Homo sapiens: one gene and its partners. The protein of the gene in region 1 purifies or fractionates together with the protein of each later gene. This does not show direct contact. Each region holds a gene or a part of one and is shown in the gene's direction. Other genes may lie near its edges.

Region 1 (7,698 bases):
TCCACCCTACCCCCAGCTTCTGTGCTCCTGGCCCAGCAACACTGAAGACCTAGGAGACACCAGACCACACTCCAGGGGCCAGGCAGAGGGTCCCATACCCCAGACCCGCGCTGCCTGCCCCTGCAATGGCATAGCCTGCTGTCAGACCCCAAGTGGGGTCATAAACAGAGAACTGAAATGCCTGGAGGATGGACATACACTCTCAGTATCTCCCAACGAGAGATAATAGCTGAGCACTGACTGTGCCAGGCATGATTCTAAACCCTTTAAATGATCTAATTCATTTCATCCTCACAGCAACCTTATAGAGTACTATTCTCCCATTTTGCAGATGAGTAGAATGAGGCACACAGAAGTGCCACAGAGGAAATGATGGCCCCGGGATAGGAATCATGAGGCCAGCCCTGGAGCCCACAGTATGAACCAGCATCCTGGATTCCCTTTCCTAGACACCTGCAATGTGCTTAAAGGTGGCTGGGGAGGGTTAGCCGACATCAGCCACGAGGGAGTTGTTCCTCTTAAATGGATTTTCTAGATAACCCACTTGGGCCTCTCTGAGTACCCCTGGCACATGTGAACATTTTAACCCTCTTTGGCCCCCTCTTCAAACCTAGCAACGACTCTGGCCTCTGAGGGTGGAGGCGCTGAGCCGAGACCAGCTGCGCACTGGCGTGCTTCACTCCTGCAGGATGCTTTCCAGTCTGCCAAGACTGTCCTGATGGAACTCCTGCCGGGGCTGTGCACCTGGGCAAAGTCGCTCCTCTCTGGGCTTCAGTTTCCTCATCTGTGAGTTGGAAATATAGGACTAAATGGCTTTCGCAGCCTCCTTGCCTTTTTCATTTTATTACGGTAAAAAACCCATAACTTGTACTACCTTAACTCTTTTTTTTTAATTGTTGTTTTTGTTTTGTTTTGTTTTGAGACGGAGTCTCACTCTGTCACCCAGGCTGGAGTGCGGTGGCGCAATCTAGGCTTACTGCAATCTCCGCCTCCCGGGTTGAAGCAATTCTCCTGCCCCAGCCTCTCAAGTAGCTGGGTCTACAGGCATGAGCCCCTATGCCCAGCTAATTTTTTGTGTGTGAATTTTTTTTTTTTTTTCAGTAGAGACGGGGTTTTACCATGTTGGCCAGGCTGGTCTTGAACTCCTGACCTCAAGTGATCCGCCCGCCTCAGCCTCCCACAGTGCTGGGATTACAGGTGTGAGCCACTGTGCCTGGCCCTCCCTTAACCATTTTTAAGTGTATAGTTCAGTAGTGCTAAGTCCATTTACAGTGTTCCGAAACATCTCCAGAACATTTTCATTTCACAAAACTGAGACTCTGTACCCATTAATCAACCCTCTATTTCCACCTCCTCCCAGCCCCAGGCAACCCCCATTCTACTTTCTATGAATTTCACTGCACGAGGGCCCTCATTTAAGTGGATGATGCAGTATTTGTCCTCTCATTACTGGCTTCTTTCACTTCATGTCCTCAGTGTCCATCTGTTGTAGCATGTGACAGGATTTCCTTCCTTTTTAAGACTGAATAATATTCCATTGTATGCATAGACCACGTTTTATTTTTTATTTTTAATTTTATTATATTATAATTAATTATTACTCCAGGCTGGAGTGCAATGGTGCGATCTCGGCTCACCGCAACCTCCACCTCCTGGGTTCAAGCCTTTCTCCTGCCTCAGCCTCCTGAGTAGCTGGGATTACAGGCATGCGCCACCATGCCTGGCTAATTTTTGTATTTTTAGTAGAGACAGGGTTTCTCCATGTTGGCCATGATGGTCTCAAACTCCTGATCTCAGGTGATCCGCCCGCCTCAGCCTCCCAAAGTGCTGGGATTACAGGTGTGAGCCACCGCGCCTGGCCTGACCACGTTTTGTTTATCCAGTGTCTGTGGATGGACAGTTGTGCTGCCTCACAATGACCTCTTGGCCATTGTGAATAATGCTGCTAAGAAAATAGATGTACAAATATCTCCTCAAGACTCTGCTTTCGGTTCTTTTGGGTATATGCCCAGAAATGGAATTGCTGAATCATAGGCATTTTAAAGCCATTTTCATACTCTTTTCTATAGTTGGCTATAGCACTTCACATTCTTACCCACAATGCACAAGGGTTCTGCATCATTGCCAACACGTGTGATTTGATTTTTTGAGACCAGGTCTCCCTCTGTAGCCCAGGCTGGAGTACAATGGCATGATCTTGGGGCACTACAACCTCTGCTTCCCAGGCTCAAGCGATCCTCCTACCTCAGCCTCCTAAGTAGCTGGGACTACAGGCGCACGCACCACCATGCCCTGCTAGTTTTTTTTTTTTTTTTTTTGTAGAAATAGGGTTTTGTCATGTTGCCCAGGCTGGTCTCGAACCCCTAGGCTCAAGAGATCCTCCCAAAGTGCTGGGATTACAGGCGTGAACCACCATGCCTGGCATGATTTTTTCATTTATGTATTTATTTATTAAAGACGGGGTTCCTGCTATGTTGCCGAGGCTGGTCTTGAACTCCAGGGCTCAAGCAATCCTCCTGCCTCGGCCTCCCAAAGTGGTGGGATTCCAGGCCTTTTTCTTTTTTATAGGAGCCCTCCTAACAAGTGTGAGACAGTATTTCATTGTGGTTTCATTTGCAGCTCTCTGATGATTAGCAATGCTGAGCACCTTTTCGTGTGTGTGTTGCCCATTTGTGTGCAGCCCCTCTTTCCTGAGGAGCATTCTGAGGAGCTCCGCCTGGCCTCCACAGTGATCCCTTCGAGGAGGACTTGGCCAATAGGGCTGTGATCCCTGCCCTCACTCACGGCTCTTGCATGATTCTGTGGCCCCCCCTTCATCTTCCCCATCTCTTCTGGGGGCAGCTGGGGAAAGTGGAGGTTCTAACCTATCACAACCCCCAACCACCTCACACACAGGGGCTGAGACCAGGCCAGGGCTGGCTCCAAGGAAGAAGCCCCTAGGATGGCCACATCTGACCACTCAGGGCTGCTGAAGGTGGGGCCAGGGCCAGGTCCATGCCTTCAGTGGATTTTGGTGCAGGGGATGCATTCCTTCAAGAATCTGCCTTCTCCATTCCTGTGCTGTGTGAACATGGTACGGGGTAGGGGTGCCTGCAGCCCCCTTGGGCCAGGGCCACCAGCCATGCTCTTGCACCCCCACACACATGTGCCAGGTTGGGGTTCCAGGATATGGTCAGTGGGTGCCTCAGTGGAGAGGGCCCAGGCAGCCCCGGTGCCTGATGACATCATGGGCCTTGCTGGATGTCCTGACAAGCAAAGGCAGGAGCTCCTGGTACCAGGGAGAACTCGCCCCCTCTGCCCTTCTGGGGATACTGGTCCTCTTTAGACCAAGACAAAATATTAGCATATCAGAGAAATATACTTAGGGTTTTCTAAGTGCATTTCCCCAACCAGCCGGTCAGCATCACCTGTGAACTGGCCATGTAAGTCTCTGCCTCCACACCAGACCCACCGAATAACCCTCCTGGGTGGTTCTGATGGAAGCCTTTCAGGTGGTTCTGATGGAAGATTGACGACCAGCGCTCTGGAAGTAACTTTAGCCTGATTTGAATTCCTTGCTGCTGTGAACGCTTAACTTTTAGGAACAGGTATATTTATCACAAAGAAATCCGAAGCAATTAGGGGAGCTACCTACACTTTCAAAAGGACTTGAATGTATTTAAATTAAAAAAAGCGGATGGGGCCCGGGTGCAGTGGCTCATGCCTGTAATCCCAGCATTTTGGGAGGCGGGAGGGTCACTTGAGTCCAGGAGTTCAAGACCAGCCTGGGCAACATGGCAAGACCCATTTCTACAAAAATAAAATAACACCAAAAATTAGCCGGGTATGATGGGGCGCGCCTGTAGTCCCAGCTGGGGACTCCCGAGACTGAGGTGGGGGTATCTCCTGAGCTTAGGATGTTGAGGCTGCAGTGAGCCGACATCATGCCACTACACTGCAGCCTGGGCGACAGAGTGAGACTCCTGTCTCAAAACAAAAAAGAGGGGCGGGGAAGCAGTAACAAGCACAGGTGTCCTCAGCCCATGGATGGCAGCGCCCGCCTCCACGCGCCAGTGCCCTCCTGCTCCCCTACCTCCCCCTTGGCCACCCCTGGGCATCCCCAGCCCTGCAGCGCCGAGGGCGGAGGGGAGGCCACCCGCCCCCAGCAGAGGGCTCCGAGAGAGCTGCAGCGGCGGTGGGGGCCCCGCAGAGATTGGGGCCCATGGTTTGAAGGCTGTTCACAGGCACCCCGAGACAGCGTCCCCCCTCTGGGCGCACTGGATTTGACGTTGCAGGACGCGCGGCTGGAAGCCCCCCAGGCCCCGCTGCTCACAGACCGGGACTCCGCCTCCGGTTCCCGAGGGCGTGGCGAGGCGCTGCGGGACGCCCAACAGGTGCGTGTTGTGTCCCCAGGCCCCGCGCTCCGGGTGGAGTCAAGAACCTGGAAGCCGGCAGCCCGGGAAAAGGGGGCGGGACGGTGCCCCGGGGCAGGGCTGGGTGGCGGCCGCTGTCCTCCCGGGAGGGGCGGGCCGCCTCGACGCCGCCCTCCCTGGCGGCCAATGGAGACCGAGGCCCCGCGCCTGGATTGGAGCGGACGCGGGGGGTCAGCCAGCCTTGGGGGCCGGGGCCTGGCCGGGGGCGGGGGGGCAGGCGAGGCGAGGCGGGCGCCGTCCGCGCGGTTATAAGGCGGGGAGTTCCCTGCGCCGCGAGCCGGGAGGCGCACGCTCGCTCGTACGGCGGCCGCGGCGGCAGGGCGGGGCCGGAGCAGCGGGCGGCGGCGGAGGCGGCGCCCGGGAGCGCTCTTCGCTTCCCTCGGGGTCTTGCTCGGACCTCGGCCACCGCCTGGGATCCCCAGGACTCGTGCGTGCAGCATGGGCGGCGTCGGGGAGCCGGGACCGCGGGAGGGACCCGCGCAGCCGGGGGCGCCGCTGCCCACCTTCTGCTGGGAGCAGATCCGCGCGCACGACCAGCCCGGCGACAAGTGGCTGGTCATCGAGCGCCGCGTCTACGACATCAGCCGCTGGGCACAGCGGCACCCAGGGGGCAGCCGCCTCATCGGCCACCACGGCGCTGAGGACGCCACGGTAAGGAAGCCATAAGGAAGCCACCCACCGGCGGGTGGAGCCTGGAGCTCGGTCGTGGGCGTGATGTCCCGCTCCACCTGTGGGGCCTTAGCATCCTCCCTCCCCTCGCTGACCTTTGACCTCCACGCCGGGACCCAGAGTTGGGGTGGACTAGCCAGGGCCAGATGTGGGGTAGGGAGGGCAGTTCCCTGCGTGGAGGACCCGCAGCTGTCCACGGAGCAGGTCTGCGGGGGAGGAGGGGGCCTCAGAGGTGGGTGTGTCATGCTGCAGAGCCTGCCCTGGGTGAGGGGCTGCCCTGTTGCTCCCAGGTCCCTGTTTCAGTTCTGGGTCCCCATGCTGGGTGCTTGCTGAGTGCTAGGGGTAGGGCAGGGCAGGGTCCCCAGGGGCCGGTAAGGACATGCCATTAGAGGCTGGGGGCTGGGCCGGCCTGAGGTCTGTGGCTTTCCCAAGAGCTTCTGTAAAGGGCTCAGGGACAGTGACTCACCTCTCCGGGCTAGCAGCTGCACGTGGGAGGGCTTTGCCAGCCAGGCTGGGTGGGCCTCTCCTGGAAGCACAGTCACCCCAGGAACAGGCTGGCCCCTGGGGACCCCAACTTCCCAATCCCAGCCCCTGTCTAGACAGGCAGGGATGTAGCCTGGCCCCAGGGTACTGTCTGGCTGGAGTCCAGTGGTGGAGCAGCCCGACCAGCCCCTTTTCCTTAGTTACCCACCTGCATAATAGGGGTTGGGGCCACGATGCCCTGTCCTTGACCCTCCAAATTTCTAGGTTGGCCACACTGGGTATCAGGAAGGTCTTCAAGACCCGAGGACATGAATCCTGAATGCTGGCTTTTTGGGCAGCAGCGGAGGTTCTGTCCAGTCCCAGGACTGTCGGCGTCCCTCTTGACAGGGCCACCTGCTCTCTGCCGATTGCCATCTCCAGCATGTTGGACAATCTTCACTGGACTCTTTGAGGAAGAAAGCCCCTCTTTTCCCCTTCCACCCCATGAAGCTGAGGAGTGAGAATAAGAATCCTCCTGAAATTCTAAAAAAAGAAAAAAAAAAAAAAGAGAACGCCTTGTCCGTGGCTGTTCAGGCGCCAGACGCTGGCCCGAGGGGACAGCACAGCCGTGGGATGAAGCAGCCTGGGGGCAGTATTTGAGCGTGCAGGTGTTTGCATGTCTGGGTGAGTGTGGTGTGTGTGCCTGCCTTTCTGCCAGGGCGTGGCGAGGTGAGGGGCACGGCTTCTCCCCAAAGGCCTTGCTGAGCCCTGGCCTCCCTTCAAGGAGTCTTGTGGATGCCTGCTCTGGTCTTTTTCTAAAAAAGTATCTATTTTATTTATTATTATTTGTTTAAAAATAGAGACAGGGTCTCACTATGTTGCTCGGGCTGGTCTCAAAGTCCTGGGTTCAAGCATTCCTCCTGCCTCAGCCTCCGAAAGTTCTGGGATTACAGGCATGAGCCACCACTCCCGGCCTGCTCTAGTCTTTTGTAACCTAGAGGACAGTATGGATACAGAAAACTTTACTCCCCACCAACCGCCGGAGACAGAGTCTTGCTCTGCCACCCAGACTGGAGTGCAATGGCGCCATCTTGGCTCACTGCAACCTCCGCCTCCCAGGTTCAAGCGATTCTCCTGCCTCAGCCTCCCGAGTAGCTGGGATTACGGGCACGCGCCACCACGCCCAGCATATTGTATTTTTAGTAGAGACGGGGTTTCACCATGTTGGCCAAGCTGGTCTCGAACTCCTGACCTCGTGATCCACCCACCTCGGCCTCCCAAAGCGCTGGGATTACAGGCGTGAGCCACCACGCCCGGCTGGGATACAGAAAGCTTTTATTTCATCACTGTTTCCTGCCTGGTGCCAGGCCCATGCTGGGGTTCCTCCCAAGTGGAATTACTGACTTAACATTTAGCTTGGGATCCTGAGACTTCCATCACACAGTTTTCTCATTGATTCGCAGCCAATAATATCTGTTTTAAAAACATCTCAGGCCGAGCGCTGTGGCTCACACCTGTAATCCCAGCACTTTGGGAGGCTGAGGTGGGCAGATCACCTGAGGTCGGGAGTTTGAGACCAGCCTGACCAACATGGAGAAACCCTGTCTCTTCTAAAAAAATACAAAATTAGCCAGGCGTGGTGGCGCATGCCTGTAATCCCAGCACTTTGGGAGGCTGAGGCAGGAGAATCGCTTGAACCCAGGAGACGGAGGTTCCGGTGAGCCGAGATCGCGCCATTGCACTCCAGCCTGGGCAACAAGAGCAAAACTCCGTCTCAAACAAACAAACAAAAAACATCTCTCTGCTCCTTGGGGCCGGGTGCCAGCTCTGCTATTGGAGGCACTGAGCGACCTTGAAGCAGGCATGTCACTCCTCTGTGCCCCAGTTTACTCATCTGTAAAGTGGGAGAGCTGGGGCAGACAGTGAGCTGGCTGAGGGCAGGACTGTGTCTCCTCAAGCCCATGGCCCAGGGCTGCCAGGTAGTAGTTTGTATTCGGTAAATGCTGCTGGCCCCTAAGTGTGAGCGTGCCCTGCAAACTGCAGCGTATGGTGGGACAGCCCTGCACGGCTACCCCTTTCCTGGGTGACCTTATTTGGTTACGGTCCTATCTGAAGTAGGAAAGGGACACTTTAGGCTGTCTCTTAGCTCCCTCAA
Region 2 (7,021 bases), on another chromosome or scaffold:
TTCAATTTTAACTCCACCACTGACTGGCCTGTGTCCATGGCTTGCCTTCTCTTGCCTCAATTTCCTTTTCTGTAGAAGAGAGAGAGTAGTAACTGTTTGTAGAATTGTTGGGAGGATGACATCAGATGGTGCACATAAAGCGCTGAGACAGTACCTGATACAGCAGGGCCCAGTGAGTCATAGCTGCCCTGTTTTCTTAGGTAATTCAGGCTTTCTCTGCCTTGGCACTGTGGACATTTTGCACGGGAACATTCTGTTTTGGGGGCTGTCCTGTGCATTGTTGGATGTTTAGCAGCCTCCCTGGCTTCCCACCCACTAGATGCCATTAGCAACTCCTTCTCCCCATCCCCAGTTGTAGCAAGCAAAACTGTCTTGGTGGATGTTTTTTGGGGGATACAGTTGCCCTGGTTAAAATCTACTGGGAGCTGCTCTCTCTCCTCTGTGCTGCTGTTGCAGCAAAACTCCCAAGAGAAGCGGTATCTGTTTATGTCTAAGAGTCCAACTCGGGAATCAGACTTCCCCTGCCTCACTTTCCTACCTCCAGGCCGTTGGCTTGGATGAGGGGCTGCACCTCTGTGAGCTCCTCACTTTGGTGAGCAGGCCTCATGGGGCAGCACAAAGCAGATGCTCTGAGTGCTCCATTTCGTGTGCTGTGATTCACATTCCTTCCTCCGCCACTCCAAGTAGCCCTCAGCTACTGGGCATGTTTACTTTAAAGTAAAACCAGGCTTCACCTCTTCTCTGTGAAGGAATAAAACTAGTCTGCCCTTTTCTGAGGTGTCTTAGAACTTCTTAGAATGTTCCTTCATCCCCCTCCCTCCTACTGCACTTGGCGAATCAAGCAGCTTAGAGACCAAGAAACCTTGTACAGGTGGAGCCTCGGCAGCGCTGCCCCGCGCTCCGACCCTGCTTCTGTTTCTTGTCTCTTGGTTGCCTTCTGAGAATCTGCCCTTCCTCTGGGCAGAACTGACTTGACTTTAGTGATGGGCCTTTGGATAGAGGTAATGGCAGGAAGTTAACTAATTTTTTGAATTTCTTGTTTTCTAGTGTGTTCTTATTATTTTAGTACTTTAATGGTATTATGTACTGAATTTTAGCCAATAAAGGGGGAGGGAGGTTGCATCAGTACACTTAAAAGTGTGTGTGTGTGTGTGTGTGTGTGTGTGTGTGTGTGTGTGTGTGTGTATTTTGGAGACAGGGTCCTGCTGTTACCCAAGCTAGAGTTCAGGGGCATGATTATAGCTCACTGTAGCCTCAAATTCCTGGGCTTAAGCAATCCTCCTGCCTCAGCCTCCTGAATAGCTGGGACTACAGGCATGCACCACTACACCTGGTGATTGATTGATTGGTTGGTTGTAGACACAGGGTCTCTTTGTGTTGCTCAGGCTAGTCTTGAACTTCTGGGCTCAAGTGATCTTCCTGCTTTGGCCTCCCAAAGTGCTAGGATTACAGGTATGAGCCACTGTGCCCAGCCAAAAATATTTTTATAAAGTCGGAGCTTTTGTGTTGTTTGGGAGGATTTCTTTACAAATCGATTATTTTTATGTCAGTGGGTGTCTTAGCTCCATATGTAGAGTATACAGTATGGTTTTATAACTTTTGATTTACACAGACATACCTTTGGAGCCATGGCCACAGTTAAGATAGTGGGCATATCAATAGCTCTGGGTCCTTTTTTGTTGGAGACAGGGTCTCACTCCATTGCCCAGGCTGGAGTGCATGATGTGATCATGGCTCACTGCAGCCTCGACTTCCCAGGCTCAGGTGATTCTCCCACCTCAACCTCCCAAGTAGCTAGGACTACAGGCATGTGCCACCACGCCCAGCTAATTTTTAAATTTTTAGTAGACATGAAATATTGCTGTGTTGCCCAGGCTGGTCTTGAACTCATGGGCTCAAGCAATCCACACGCATCAGCCTCCCAAAGTGCTAGGATTATAGGCATGAGCCACTAGTGCCCAACCTAACCCTGGGTACTTAAAAGAGAAAAATCTAGATATGGTTTGTAGTAGCCAGTTGGAGGCTACCGTGTTTTGTGTGAAACTGTCATACTTAGAATGGTTTAGAAAGTCTTAGGAGAATGCCTGCCTGTTAGGTTGGTTTAACTTGTAATGGGCTGTGAGGGGTTGTTGCCGTGTGGTGGGGGTCCTTCCCTCAGAGAGGCCTCACCCGCCTTGCTGTGCTTCTGGTGCTAGAGTTTCAGTCCTAGTTGCCCCTGAGGCGCTTGCGACTGTAGCCGCTCAGTATCTGTCTTCTAGTCTGTGACTTGAATGGGAGTTGGGGGAGCAGAGGAACTGGGAGTGAAGGGCTCTGGGTTGGGCTTGATTGTTGTGATTTTCTCTCTTTTTTTGTTTTTTGAGATGGAGTTTCGCTCTTGTTGCCCAGGATGGAGTGCAGTGGCGCGATCTCAGCTCACTGCAGCCTCCACCTCCCTGGCTCAAGTGATTCTCCTGCCTCAGCCTCCCGAGTAGCTGGGATTACAGGCACGCGCCACCACGCCTGGCTAATTTTTTTTGGTATTTTTAGTAGGGACGGGGTTTCTCCATGTTGGTCAGGCTGGTCTCGAACTCCCGACCTCTGGTGATCCCCCTGCCTCAGCCTCCCACAGTGCTGGGATTACAAGCATGAGCCACAGTGCCCCGCCGATTCTCTCTTTTGAGGCTTTTCCTGCTCGGGGACTTCTGGTTTCCCAGTTCTCTGTTGTTTTCTGAAAGGAAAGACTGTGAAATGACCCAGAACAGTTCCTACTCAGAGTTTAGAAGACACTGTCTTGGCATGATGCCTGAGTTGGGAATAGATGCCGCTGGCCCCCCAGGCTTCCTGCACACTCCCTGACCAACAGACTGAGTGTGTTTGCTGTGATCCCACTGACAGAAATTACCAAGGCCATCTGGGCATGCCTGTACCTGTGCTGCCGGATGCAGTTTGGTCAGCAACAGACCACAATATGATAGTGGTCCCATAAGACTATGATGGTGCTGAAAAATTCCTGGCACCTGGTGACGTTGGAGCTACCATGTTGAGGGCAGTGTATTACTCGTGTCTGTGGTGCTGCAGTAGGTGTGACCAAACCTACTGCCCCAGTCATACCAGAGTATACACCTACAGTTACGTACAGTACCATACAGTACGTAATAATTGATGATAAACGACTGTTACTACTTTGTGTATTTGCTATACTTTTAAGAGCATATTCTGCCTACTTACTAGAAACAAAGTCAACTGTAAAGCAGCCTCAGGCAGGTTCTTCAGGAGGAATCCAGAAGAAGGCAATTGGTGTGACAGGAGATGACAGCTCCATGTGTGTTGTTGCCCCTGAATACCTTCCAGTGGGGCAAGATGTGGAGGTGGAAGATCCAGACCCTGTGTAGGCCTAGGCTAATATGTGTTTTTTGTGTCTTTTTGGGTTTTTGGTTTTTTTGTTTTGTTTTGTTTTGAGGCAGGGTCTCTCCCTCACCTGGGCGGAAGTGCAGTCATGACTCATTGCAGCCTTGACCTCCTGGGCCCAAGTGATCTTCCTGCCTTATTTTTGATTTTTTGTAGAGATGGGGTCTCACTGTGTTGCCTGGGCTGTTCTCGAAATCCTGGGCTGAAGCAGTCCTCCTGCCTCGGCCTCCCAGAGGGCTGGGATTATAGGCATGAGCCACTGTGCCTGGCCGTGTCTTCATTTATAACAAAAAAGTTCAAAAAGTTAAAAAAAATTTAATAGAAAAAAGCTTATGGAATAAGGATATAACAAAAAAAATTTTTGTACAGCTATATGATATATTTGTGTTTACAAAAGAGTCAAAAACCTTAAAGCTTTTAAAAAAGTAGTTTGTAAAGTAAAAAAGCCATAGTAGGCTAGGGTTTATTATTGAAGAAAGGAAAATTTAAAAATTGAGTGTAGTGTTAAGTGGACGGTGTTTCTAAAGGTGACAGTGGTGTCCAGTGAGGGCCCAGGCCTTCACATTCTCTCCCTGACTCACCCAGTGCAACTCAGGCCTACCTGCTCCATTCACCGTAAGTGCTCTGTACAGGTGTCCCGTTCTTGATTTCTTATACCGTATTTTTACTGTACCTTTTCTGTGTTTAGATAATGTTTAGACACACAGATACTTATCATTGATGTACAGTTACTTCCATTATTCAGTACAGTTACACACTGTACAGGTTACGGCCTCAGTGTGTGGTAAGGATACTGCCTCCATGCTCACACGTCTCTGTTTGTGTGAGGACACTGATCACACAGTGACGAAATTGCTCATCAGGTTTTGGGTGGTTTTTTTTCACTGAACACAATGCCTCATCAGAGCATCTAGGACTTCTTTGAGAACAGCCTGGAGATGCTTGGCACAGGGCTTCCTGCTGTGCCTGGGCAGCTCTGGTGGGCCCGGGGTGACCTGAGGGCCAGCAGGGGAGTGTCAGTTTCTTGTGGCTGCATCTAAAAATATGGGCTTCCTTAAAATACCCAGTGGCAGCGCCTGCTAAGTAGGCATTTGCCATCACAACGGCTTCCCAGAAACGCAGCTGGAAGGACATAGTGGGATCTTAACGTGCTTCTTACTGGCAAGTTGCTGAAACAAATGCAGAAATTCTGTCAGAAACTGCTGTCTCTGCATATTGATGCCACCAGCTGAGGGGCTGAAATTGCAGCCTCAGAGGGACCAGTCCTGAAAACAGATCTGAAAAGTGAGCAGCCAAGTAAGTAAATTAGGGTTTTTCGGTTATTTTCCTCTAACATTTTCTCTGTGCTCCCTAAGGCTTCTCCTGAAGAACAGGTCATCCTGGTAGGCCTGTTCCCAGTCCTGGGTCAGAGCTGCTTCCCAGGAGCCATATCACTCCCTCACTTTTCAGCAGTACCCTTAATACTTTTCCATTTTACATAATTAATTATTTTGTTTTGTTTGTTTGTTTTTATTAAGCAAATGCTTCTCTCTGTTCCTCTTGGGCTTCTGAAGGGATCCTTTCTGCTTCTCCCTCTAGTCTCTCCTTTTGGTCATTCCAACTCCATCTCAGAAAAATGGATATAGGAAGTAAACTTAACCATTGAACTTCAACTTAAATGGTTCTGGTCATTCGGATGGAAGTTTCTTTTTTTTAATGTGGTTAAATTTGAGTAAATATGTAAAACTGCTCTTAGTTCTTTTTTGTTTGTTTTTGTTTTTTTTTTTTTGAGACGGAGTCTCACTCTGTCACCCAGGCTGGAGTGCAGTGGCGTGATCTTGGCTCATGGCAGCCTTCACCTCCCAGGTTCAAGCGATTCTCCTGCCTCAGGCTCCGGAGTAGCTGGGACTACAGGTGCCTGCCACCATACCCGGTTTAGTAGAGACGGGGTTTAACCATATTGATCAGACTAGTCTCGAACTCCTGACCTTGTGATTCACCTGCCTCGGCCTCCCAAAGTGCTGGGATTACAGGCCAGAGCCACTGTGCCCGGCTAAAAATGTGTTAGCCTTTCTTCGATGAGGTCGTCAGTTCTCCGCAGGGGCTGCAGTGAGGCGCCTAGCATGTGGAAGTGTTCAGCAGTCTTCTGTGGAGGCGGCTGCAGAGTAACAGGATCATGGTTTTGCTTGTATTGTCCTTAAAAGATCTGTTTATGCCACTCATTTACGAGGACCAAAATATGCTTGCTCAGAGGTAGTAATGTGTTAAGAACAAGCTTTGAATTTGTTCTTTTTTTTGGAGGGGGGTGGGGGGGACAGAGTCTTGCTCTGTCACCCAGGCTGGAGTGCAGTGGCTCGATCTCGGCTCACTGCAAGCTCCGCCTCCCGGGTTCACGCCATTCTCCTGCCTCAGCCTCCTGAGTAGCTGGGACTACAGGCACCCACCACCACGCCCGGCTAATTTTTTGTGTTTTTAGTAGAGAGGGGGGTTTTACAGTGTTAGCCAGGATGGTCTTGATCTCCTGACCTTGTGATCCGTCCACCTCAGCCTCCCAAAGTGCTGGGATTACAGGCATGAGTCACCGTGCCCGGGGTTAATGCAGCTGTATCCCTGAGAAGTAAACTTTCACACTCATAACTCAGTGCCCATGGAGCCGTGGCACTAAGGAATGTTGAGGGAGCAGCACAGCTCGCCTCCAGCACTTGGCAGCGAGTGAGCGCTGAACCTGTGCCTGGCTGTGCGGGAGACAAAGGGAGATCAAAGGCCCTGAAAGGAGGCTGCATGTGTTTTCCAGGCAGCCCGAACTGTGCGTTTCCAGTTGTCTCCCACGCACTGTGACCAGGACTGTGAATGGGACAGCTTCCCTCACCAGGGAAGGAGTGTGGGGCAGCAGCCTGACATGTGGCTCATAAAGAAGGCAGAGGACAGCATCTCCAGGTTTTCTTATGTACAGAATGACTGACTTCACATAGCTTTACAAATTAACCTGCTTCTTTACCTTCAGAGTTTTGGAGGAAAGATGGCAGATGTAATAGGAAATGGGCTGTCAGTGAGATTGAGGTAAAAATGGAAATCCGGCCCACAGAACCCCAGGTCACTGTATCCAGCCTGCCTGTGTGGCCGTGGAACCCGGTGAGCACAGAAAGTATCAGGAGGGTTTAGGGCTGCCAGCAGAGCTGATTAGCGTCACCGTCTTCTGTGGCTCAGGATGTGAATGGTGGTGATCTGGAGCTGAAGGATTTGCAGAGTACTGGCTAGAACTGCAGGCCCTGCACCTTGGGTAGAGGGAAGCTGGATGGGTCATTTATGGGCTCTCTGTCTGTGCAGCGTGTGTGCTAGGTGTGTCCATTTAATACTTAAAACGGATTTTCAGGAATGTTACATGCCTCATGTAATGTGGATTTTTTCATGTGGTAAGTGATGTCCTGTCTTAGTTAAGGCTTTAGGTGTAAGTCAGAAGTGTCCCTGGGCATCTGTTTCTGTGGCCTGACTCCTCTGGTTGGTGTTGGGGCCAAGTGGATTAGAATACCACACAGCCATCGAGGTCTTTTTTTCCCATCTGCTCTTTTTGCGTGGAAGGAAGATGTGTTGTGATTGCAGCGCTGCTGAGGAGCACGTGTCCAGCTAATGGGAGGAGGAGGGCTGGCTTCCCTGT
Region 3 (7,676 bases), on another chromosome or scaffold:
GGAGAATAAAAATTGTCCAGGTGTGGTGGCTCATGCCTGTAATCCCAGCACTTTGGGAGGCCGAGGCGGGCAGATCATGAGGTCAGGAGTTCGAGCCCAGCCTGGCCAACATAGTGAAACCCCGTCTCTACTAAAAATACGAAAAATTAGCCGGATGTGGTGGCAGGCGCCTATAATCCCAGCTACTAAGGAGGCTGAGCGAGGAGAATGGCTTGAACCCTGGAGACGGAGGTTGCAGTGAGCTGAGATCGCGCCATTGCACTCTAGCCTGGGCGATAGAGTGAGACTCTGTCTCAAAAAAAAAAAAAAAAGAAGAGAATAAAAATCACCTCCCAGGCTGAGCTACGTGGCTCACACCTGTACTCCCAGCACTTTGGGAAGCTGAAGCGGGTGGATTGCCTGAGTTCAGGAGTTTGAGACCAGCCTGGGCAATGTGGTAAAACCCTGACTCTACAAAAAATACAAAAATTAGCCATGCATGGTGGCATACACCTGTAGTCCCAGTTACTTGGGACACTGAGGTGAGAGCATCTCCCGAGCCCAGGGAGGTTGAGGCTGCAGTGAGCTGAGAGCGCATCACTGCATGCCAACCTGGGTGACAGAGTGAGACCCTGTCTCAGAAAAAAAAAAAAAAAAATCACCTCCCAGACATGCTTTACTTATGACTGGTTATAGACCACATATCGTTATTCATTTTGTCAACTATTAACATAGTTTTCATGCTTTTTGCAGCACTATAATTTACTTCCATGAATCTGTTAAATGTACTGTCAGCGCAACTCATCTTCCCAAGAGAAATTTTAATTGTTGCTTCTTCTCACTCAGTCTTAACTTTCCTGATTAATCCACTATAGCTTTTTTTTTTTTTTTTTGAGACAGAGTTTCGATCTTGTTGCCCAGGCTGGAGTGCAATGGCACGATCTCAGCTCACTGCAACCTCCCCCTCCCGGGTTCAAGCAATTCTCCTGCCTCAGCCTCCTGAGTAGCTGGGATTACAGGCATGTGACACCATGCCCTGCTAATTTTGTATTTTTAGTAGAGACGGGGTTTCTCCATGTTGGTCAGGCTGGTCTGAAACTCCCGATCTCAGCTGATCCACCCTCCTCAGCCTCCCAAAGTGCTGAGATTACAGGCATGAGCCACCGCACCTGGCCTTTTTTTTTTTTTTTTTTTTTTTTTTTTTTTTGAGACAGGGTCTCTGTCACCCAGGCTGGAGTGCAGTAGTGCAAATATGGCTCACTGCAGCCTTGATCTCTTGGGTTTAAGCAAACCTCCCACCCCAGCCTCCTGAGTAGCTGGGACTACAGGTACACACCACCATCATGCCTGGTTAATTTTTTACAGAGATAGGGTCTCACTCTGTTGCCTTGGCTGGTCTCAAACTCTGAGGTTCAAGTGATCCTCCTGCCTTGGCCTCCTAGATTGCTGAGATTACAGGCATGAGCCACCATGCCTGGCCCACTACAGCTTCTTGACTTCTTGATTATCTATACATTCTGTGTCTGTCACAGCCCAGGACTTGGCTTACCCAGGTGACATTTTTGGCAGGAATTCTCAGCTATGTTCCTGTCCCTGCCTGCTACCTAGCTGCTCCCTGCAGTTCTCAACTTTCTTGGCAGGAAAACTAAAGAGTTTTATGATCACCTTAATTCAGAATAATTCAACCAATAAGTCCAAACAATGTCTGGTACCCCACCCTCTTTGATTCTCTGCATTTCCTTGCAAGCCCCCAATGTTTGATTGCTTCCATTCATTCCAGCTACATGCCAAGTGTGGTCAAACTAATATTTCCTACAGATATAGGTAATTATAATAGTGAGGGGATGAAGTAATGGGAAATGCAAGGGTGTCCTCCAAGTATTAAATCTACCTTAATATAGAGCTTGGGGCCTGGAGCTAAGTAATTATCATATGCCTGACATTTTCATTGCATGTGTCAGTTTACAAAGCTGTTTCAGACACATCATCATCACAGCAATCTAGATGCTATTGTTTGCCTACCCAACAACCCTCCCTGCAGCTTCCTCCTCACTGAGAGAATGCCTATTTTGTTCAGTACCCACCCTCCATCCAACAGCCATGTATTACAGGTGAGTTGTAGATCATCCTCCTCCCACCTCCACCAGCTTTGAAGTCGCTTTCCTTTTATGCCTGGGAAAGTGATATAAGTATGGCCAAAAGGAGTGAAAGAAAGTCTGCTGTGAGGGGTTCTAGAATAAGTTTCCTTGCCTTTAAAAAAATAAAAAATAAAGCAGGCCGGGCGTCATGGCTCACCCGTATAATCCCAGCACTTTGGGAGGCTGAGGTGGGCGGATCATGAGGTCAGGTTCAAGACCAACCTGACCAACATGGTGAAACCCCGTCTCTACTAAAAATACAAAAATTAGCTGGGTGTGGTGGCGCATACCTGTAGTCCCAGTTACTTGGGAGGCTAAGCCAGGCGAATTGCTTGAATCCCAGAGGTGGAGGTTGCAGTGAGCCGAGACCGTGCCACAGAGCAAGACTGGGGGGGAGGGGCAAAAAAGACCCGACAAGATAACCTCTTTTTTGGCTATGGAGATTGCCCTGTTGGATGTAACCATCCACACATCCCATTCTGGGACCACTAGTGTCTTAAGTATCAGGTAAGACTGTTTCAGGTTGAAGACATTATTAGGAATGGCAGAGTGGGCATATACAAGTAAATGATACTCCTTGTATTATCCTTGAGCTGTTTTTCTTACTACACCAAAGACCCTACCTCTGGACTTCCAACTACGCATTTGTAAGCCCAGAGAATTCTGATTCCATTAAAATTTGAGAGACACTGACTTCTAAGTCCACAACTATGAACTTTCTCCACCCTTACTAGCTAAGTAGACTTAGGCAAATTATTTAACTTTTATGGAATCTACTTCTTTGTCTGTAAAAAGGGAACTAATATCCACTTTAAGGTCTTACTGCGAGAATGTATAGTTAAGAAGATTTGATGGAGCCGGGCGCAGTGGCTCATGCCTGTAATCCCAGCACTTTGGGAGGTAGAGGCGGGCAGATCACCTGAGGTTAGGAGTTCGAGACCAGCCTGGCCAACATGGTGAAACTCTGTCTCTACTAAAAAAAAAAAAAAAAAAAATAGCCAGGCATGGTGGTGCATGCCTGTAGTCCCAGCTACTTGGGAGGCTGAGGCAGGAGAATCGCTTGAACCTGGGAGGTGGGGGTTGCAGTGAGCCAAGATTGTGCCACTGCACTCCAGCCAAGCGACAGAGTGAGACTCTGTCTCAAAAAAAAAAAAAAAGAAAAGAAAAGAAAAGAAAGAAGATTTGATGGAAGACAATTTGGAAAGTGTTGTAAGGTCCACGGACTCTACTCACAAAGTCTCCCAAACTTGCTTGCTGATAGGAATGGACACGCTGGTTACATAAGCTAATCCCAGGTGCCCGATCCCCGGAAATTCTGATTCAGTGTTTCCTAATGGACCCTGGGAGTCTGCACCTTTAATAACACATTCTAGGCTCCAGGTAAGTGTGGTGATCAGGCAAGTTTGAATTTAGCAAAGGAATACAGGATGCAGTACTCCTGTCCAGCAGGACTCAGATTTCTGGTTTCTGATTCTAGATCTGACGCTATTCCACTTGGGCAAGCAGTTGCACCTTTCTGAACCTTTTTACTCATCTGTATACCTGTTCAATATAACCTACAGGTAGGTCTATGGTGGACCGAAGGCAAATTATATTTGGGGTGAAGGGGCTCCTGATCTTAGTATTTTATGTTGTCGTAATGTGGATTAATTAGACATAATTAATTTATTAACAATTAATTAATTAGACATAAGCAAAATTGAGATTGAAGGGGGTGTTGGCAGATCATCATTTTGGCTGAGGACATGAGAAACACACTGGAAATGCTTTGTGATAAAATTAACTGAATATTAATTGTAGGACTGTGCCTTGTCTATCCTGCTACCTAGAGCCACTGAGCTTTGCAATCCTCTTAGGAGTGTGGCTTACCTTTAGGTGGTCACCCTCAACTACTCTGGTCACACTGAGAGCTGTGAAAACCTCGAGAAAAGTTAAAAACATACATGTTGGGAGACAGGGGGTTTGGATGAGGGCCCTAAATTCGATGTTTAAGCCTAGGGTCCTTACTGGCGAACACTTTCAGTAATGTCTGTGTGCAACAGAAACATTTCTCTTGGCATTAAAAAAAAAAAAAGAAAGAAAGAAAGGATGTATTCCCTTAGCTTCAGGTGGCATTCACGAAGTTGACAGAGCCAGAACACCTCCTAACTGGGGAGTTTCGGGACCTTTAGGGCGCAGAGACTGCCTGACCTCGTCGTGGGCGTAAATCAAGCTTCCCCAGCGCTTAACTTTACAATTTTCAGCTTACGCTTGGCTGCAGCTGCGCACAATCCGCGCAGAAGCAGGGGTTCCGCTGACAAACGTGAACGTACAGAACGTAGAAACCTTTTAACGCTAATATGCAGTTTCCCTGTATGGCTGTTGTGCATTATTAATCTAGGTATTGCGTATTTAGTTTAGGAAACACGAATACTACATGATAAATGAGGTAAAATGGATTGTGACTGGGACCTCAGCTTCTCCGTCGCCTCCACTCCTCCCAGCTCAGGAAAGACCAGCCCACCAAGACGTGCGTCCTCCGCGTTTGAGTCGCTTCGGCACCCGTAGTTGTGAACTTTGACAGCGGCTGGTCCCCGGAAGTTGGACGCATGCGCCGTTTCTCTGCATGGTGTGCGTTCTCGTTCTAGCTGCGGCCGCAGGAGCTGTGGCGGTTTTCCTAATCCTGCGAATATGGGTAGTGCTTCGTTCCATGGACGTTACGCCCCGGGAGTCTCTCAGTATCTTGGTAGTGGCTGGGTCCGGTAAGTATCGAGGAGGCGACTGTCGGACTTGGGTTGGTCACTACAAACCCCAGAGTGCACCGCGACGCTCTTCCCTGGTACCCTTAGCACTTCTTGGAGTGTTGCATGCAGAGATTTGTAGTTTCTCTGCCTTGCCGGAACCGGGCAGTCCAGCCAGGGTAGGGGCTGGTTTGCTGACGCGGCCCAGAGGTTTTTTTTATGACAAGTAATTTACACTTGTCTATAATTAAGACTCTCTGTAGCGTATATTTTTCAAACAATTAGTGAACAGAGAACGTAGAAGCCTTTTGATGCAAACATGCAGTTTCCCCGTATGGCTGTTGTGCATTATTAATCTAGGTATTGCGTATTTAGTTTAGGAAACACGAATGCTACATGACAAATGAGGCAAAATGAATTGTCACATTTATAAATATACAAAGTCCAAGAGGATAAAAACAATGATCTACGGGCTGTAGAACAATACACACGCGGTGGCAGAGTGTGAGCAACACACTGACCTGTCAGGTAATACAATCTAAATCCACCAACTCTGTAGGTGCTTACAATTTTAAATACACATATTTGACAGGGACAGACAGACACACACAGACACAATGTAAACATTTGGGTATGGCAGGAGATTGCATCCAGATAGAACATGTATAGTATGAGTAAATGTACTAAGTTTATGTTCAAGTATAACGCATTACTTTATTCACTTAATCTGTTTTGAGCTGTTAGAAAGACCAAACACTAAACTAACCTCTGGAAATAACAAAACTGACTAACATTACTTGCCACGGAGTGCTGACTCCGTGCTAAGTCCTGTGAGAGATGCAAAGATACAGCAGTAAATGAAATAGAGAATACAAAAAAACTAACAGAAAATAAATCAAAATGAGTATTTGCCACAATGAGATAAATGCTATAATCTTGTAATAATTGTGTAAGAAGTACAAATTGCTATGGCAGTCTTCAGGAAGGGCACTACTTTATCAGGTCTTAAAAAACAGACAGCTTCCTGGAAGAAATGATGCTAAACTGAAACTTGAAAGATGACCCAGAATTAGTCAGATGAGGGACAGCCAGGGTTTCGAGGGCTGGGAGGATGTGAAAAGAAGGTGATAACACTTGGAATGACCAGAGTTGAGAGAACACTATCGTGTAGAGTTCAATGTAGGGAGGTAAACTGAGTCCAGATTGTAAAGAGTATTTAAAATCTTGCTTTTTTTCTTTTTTATACAGAGTCTCACGCTGTTGCCCAGGCTGGAGGGCAGTGGCGCAGTCTCAGCTCACTGCAACTCCACCTCCCAAATTCAAGCCATTCTCCTGCCTCAGCCTCCCGAGTAGCTGGGATTACAGGCGCACCACCACACTCAGCTAATTTTTGTATTTTTAGTACAGACAGTGTTTCACCATGTTGACCAAGGCTGGTCTTGAACTTCCGACCTCAAGTGATCCTCCTGCCTCAGCATCCCAAAGTGCTGGGGTTGCAGACGTGAGCCACCCCTGGCCTAAAATCCTGCTTTATAAAGCAATTGCTGCTACTCCACTGTTGATATCATGTAGGGGTTAAGACCACAGGCCTCTAGGTTGTCATAACACCACACATGAATCACATTTCTGCCACTTACTACCTTGGGGATCTCAGGCAATTAGTTAACCTCGCTGAACCTTCTGTTTCTACATGGGTTGAGAGAGGACAGGAGAGATTAAATAGGATCATATTTAAAGTGTTTAGGCCGGGCGTGATGGTTCACACCTGTAATCTCAGCAATTTGGGAGGCCGATACAGGCGGATTGCTTGAGCTTAGGAGTTGGAGACCAGCCTGGGCAACATAGTGAAACCCTGTCTCTACATTAAAATAAATAAATAAATTAGGTGGATGTGGTGGCATGCACCTATAGTCCCAGCTATTTGGGAGGCTGAGGTAGGAGGATCACTTGAGTCTGGGAGGTGGAGGTTGCAGTGAGCTGAGATTGTGCCACTGCACTCCAGCCTGGTTGACAGAGTGAGACCCTGTCTCAAAATGAAATAAAATAAAATGATATAATCAAAAGCTTAAATTAAAAAATAAAGTGTTCAGTAAAGTGCTTGACATATAGTGTCAACCTAAAATAATCAAAGGGCTCAATATCCAGTTAGAAGAGTTTATTCAAGCACAAAGCGTGAGATTGGGTGTCTGGGGAGCAAACCTATACCAAAGAATGTAATCAGTGCTCCCCATGTGGGGAAGAATGAAGGTAGTTTGTATACGCAAGAACAGAGATGCTGAACAAAATTACAATATTTTCCATACAAAGGCCAACATACAGATACAAGATTTGGTTGGCTACTGTAAGGGCCAAGGGGAAACTTCCCTTTTGCCCTCTGAAGTTTCACTGAAAATCACTGATGAGGCAGAAATAATAGGAGAAAAGGCATACAAATTTATGAAGCATATATGAAAGTGTTCTGAATGAAGACCCAGAGATACAAGGGAAATGGTCTGTTTTTATGCTTAGGTTCAGCAAAGTATGGACAGCCATGTAGAATTATGACTGGACAAAAGGGTATAATTTAATGCTAATAGACAGTAGGGAAGCCCAGCAAGGCCTGTCTAGATTTTTCTTGGTCTCTCTGAGCATGCATTCCTTTCCTTCTGGATGTGGGGTAGGGCCCTCTCTGGAATGGGGGTCTTATGACCTACCGTCAAACAAGGTAGATCAGATAATTTTTTTAATTTAATTAATTAATTTTAAAAATAGAGATGGTGTCTTGCTATGTGTGCCAGACTGGTCTTGAACTCCTGGCCTCAAGCAATTCTCCTGCCTTCCAAAGCGCTGGGATTAAAGG

The links. Proteins that work in one complex are often made in the same cells at the same time.
Region 2: the proteins of FADS3 (region 1) and YTHDF1 purify together in Homo sapiens (affinity purification with mass spectrometry; 2 studies listed by BioGRID and IntAct, with this or other methods). This does not show direct contact.
Region 3: the proteins of FADS3 (region 1) and ALG14 purify together in Homo sapiens (affinity purification with mass spectrometry; 2 studies listed by BioGRID and IntAct, with this or other methods). This does not show direct contact.

Annotation. Positions count from the first base shown.
Region 1 is NC_000011.10:61,888,534-61,896,231, reverse strand, and holds the start of FADS3 (fatty acid desaturase 3), read left to right. Parts: upstream 1-4,686; 5' UTR 4,687-4,850; coding exon 4,851-5,063; intron 5,064-7,698. UniProt on the Homo sapiens protein: Mammals have different sphingoid bases that differ in their length and/or pattern of desaturation and hydroxyl groups.
Region 2 is NC_000020.11:63,206,125-63,213,145, reverse strand, and holds part of YTHDF1 (YTH domain-containing family protein 1), read left to right. Parts: intron 1-7,021.
Region 3 is NC_000001.11:95,069,945-95,077,620, reverse strand, and holds the start of ALG14 (UDP-N-acetylglucosamine transferase subunit ALG14), read left to right. Parts: upstream 1-4,669; 5' UTR 4,670-4,722; coding exon 4,723-4,858; intron 4,859-7,676. UniProt on the Homo sapiens protein: Part of the UDP-N-acetylglucosamine transferase complex that operates in the biosynthetic pathway of dolichol-linked oligosaccharides, the glycan precursors employed in protein asparagine (N)-glycosylation.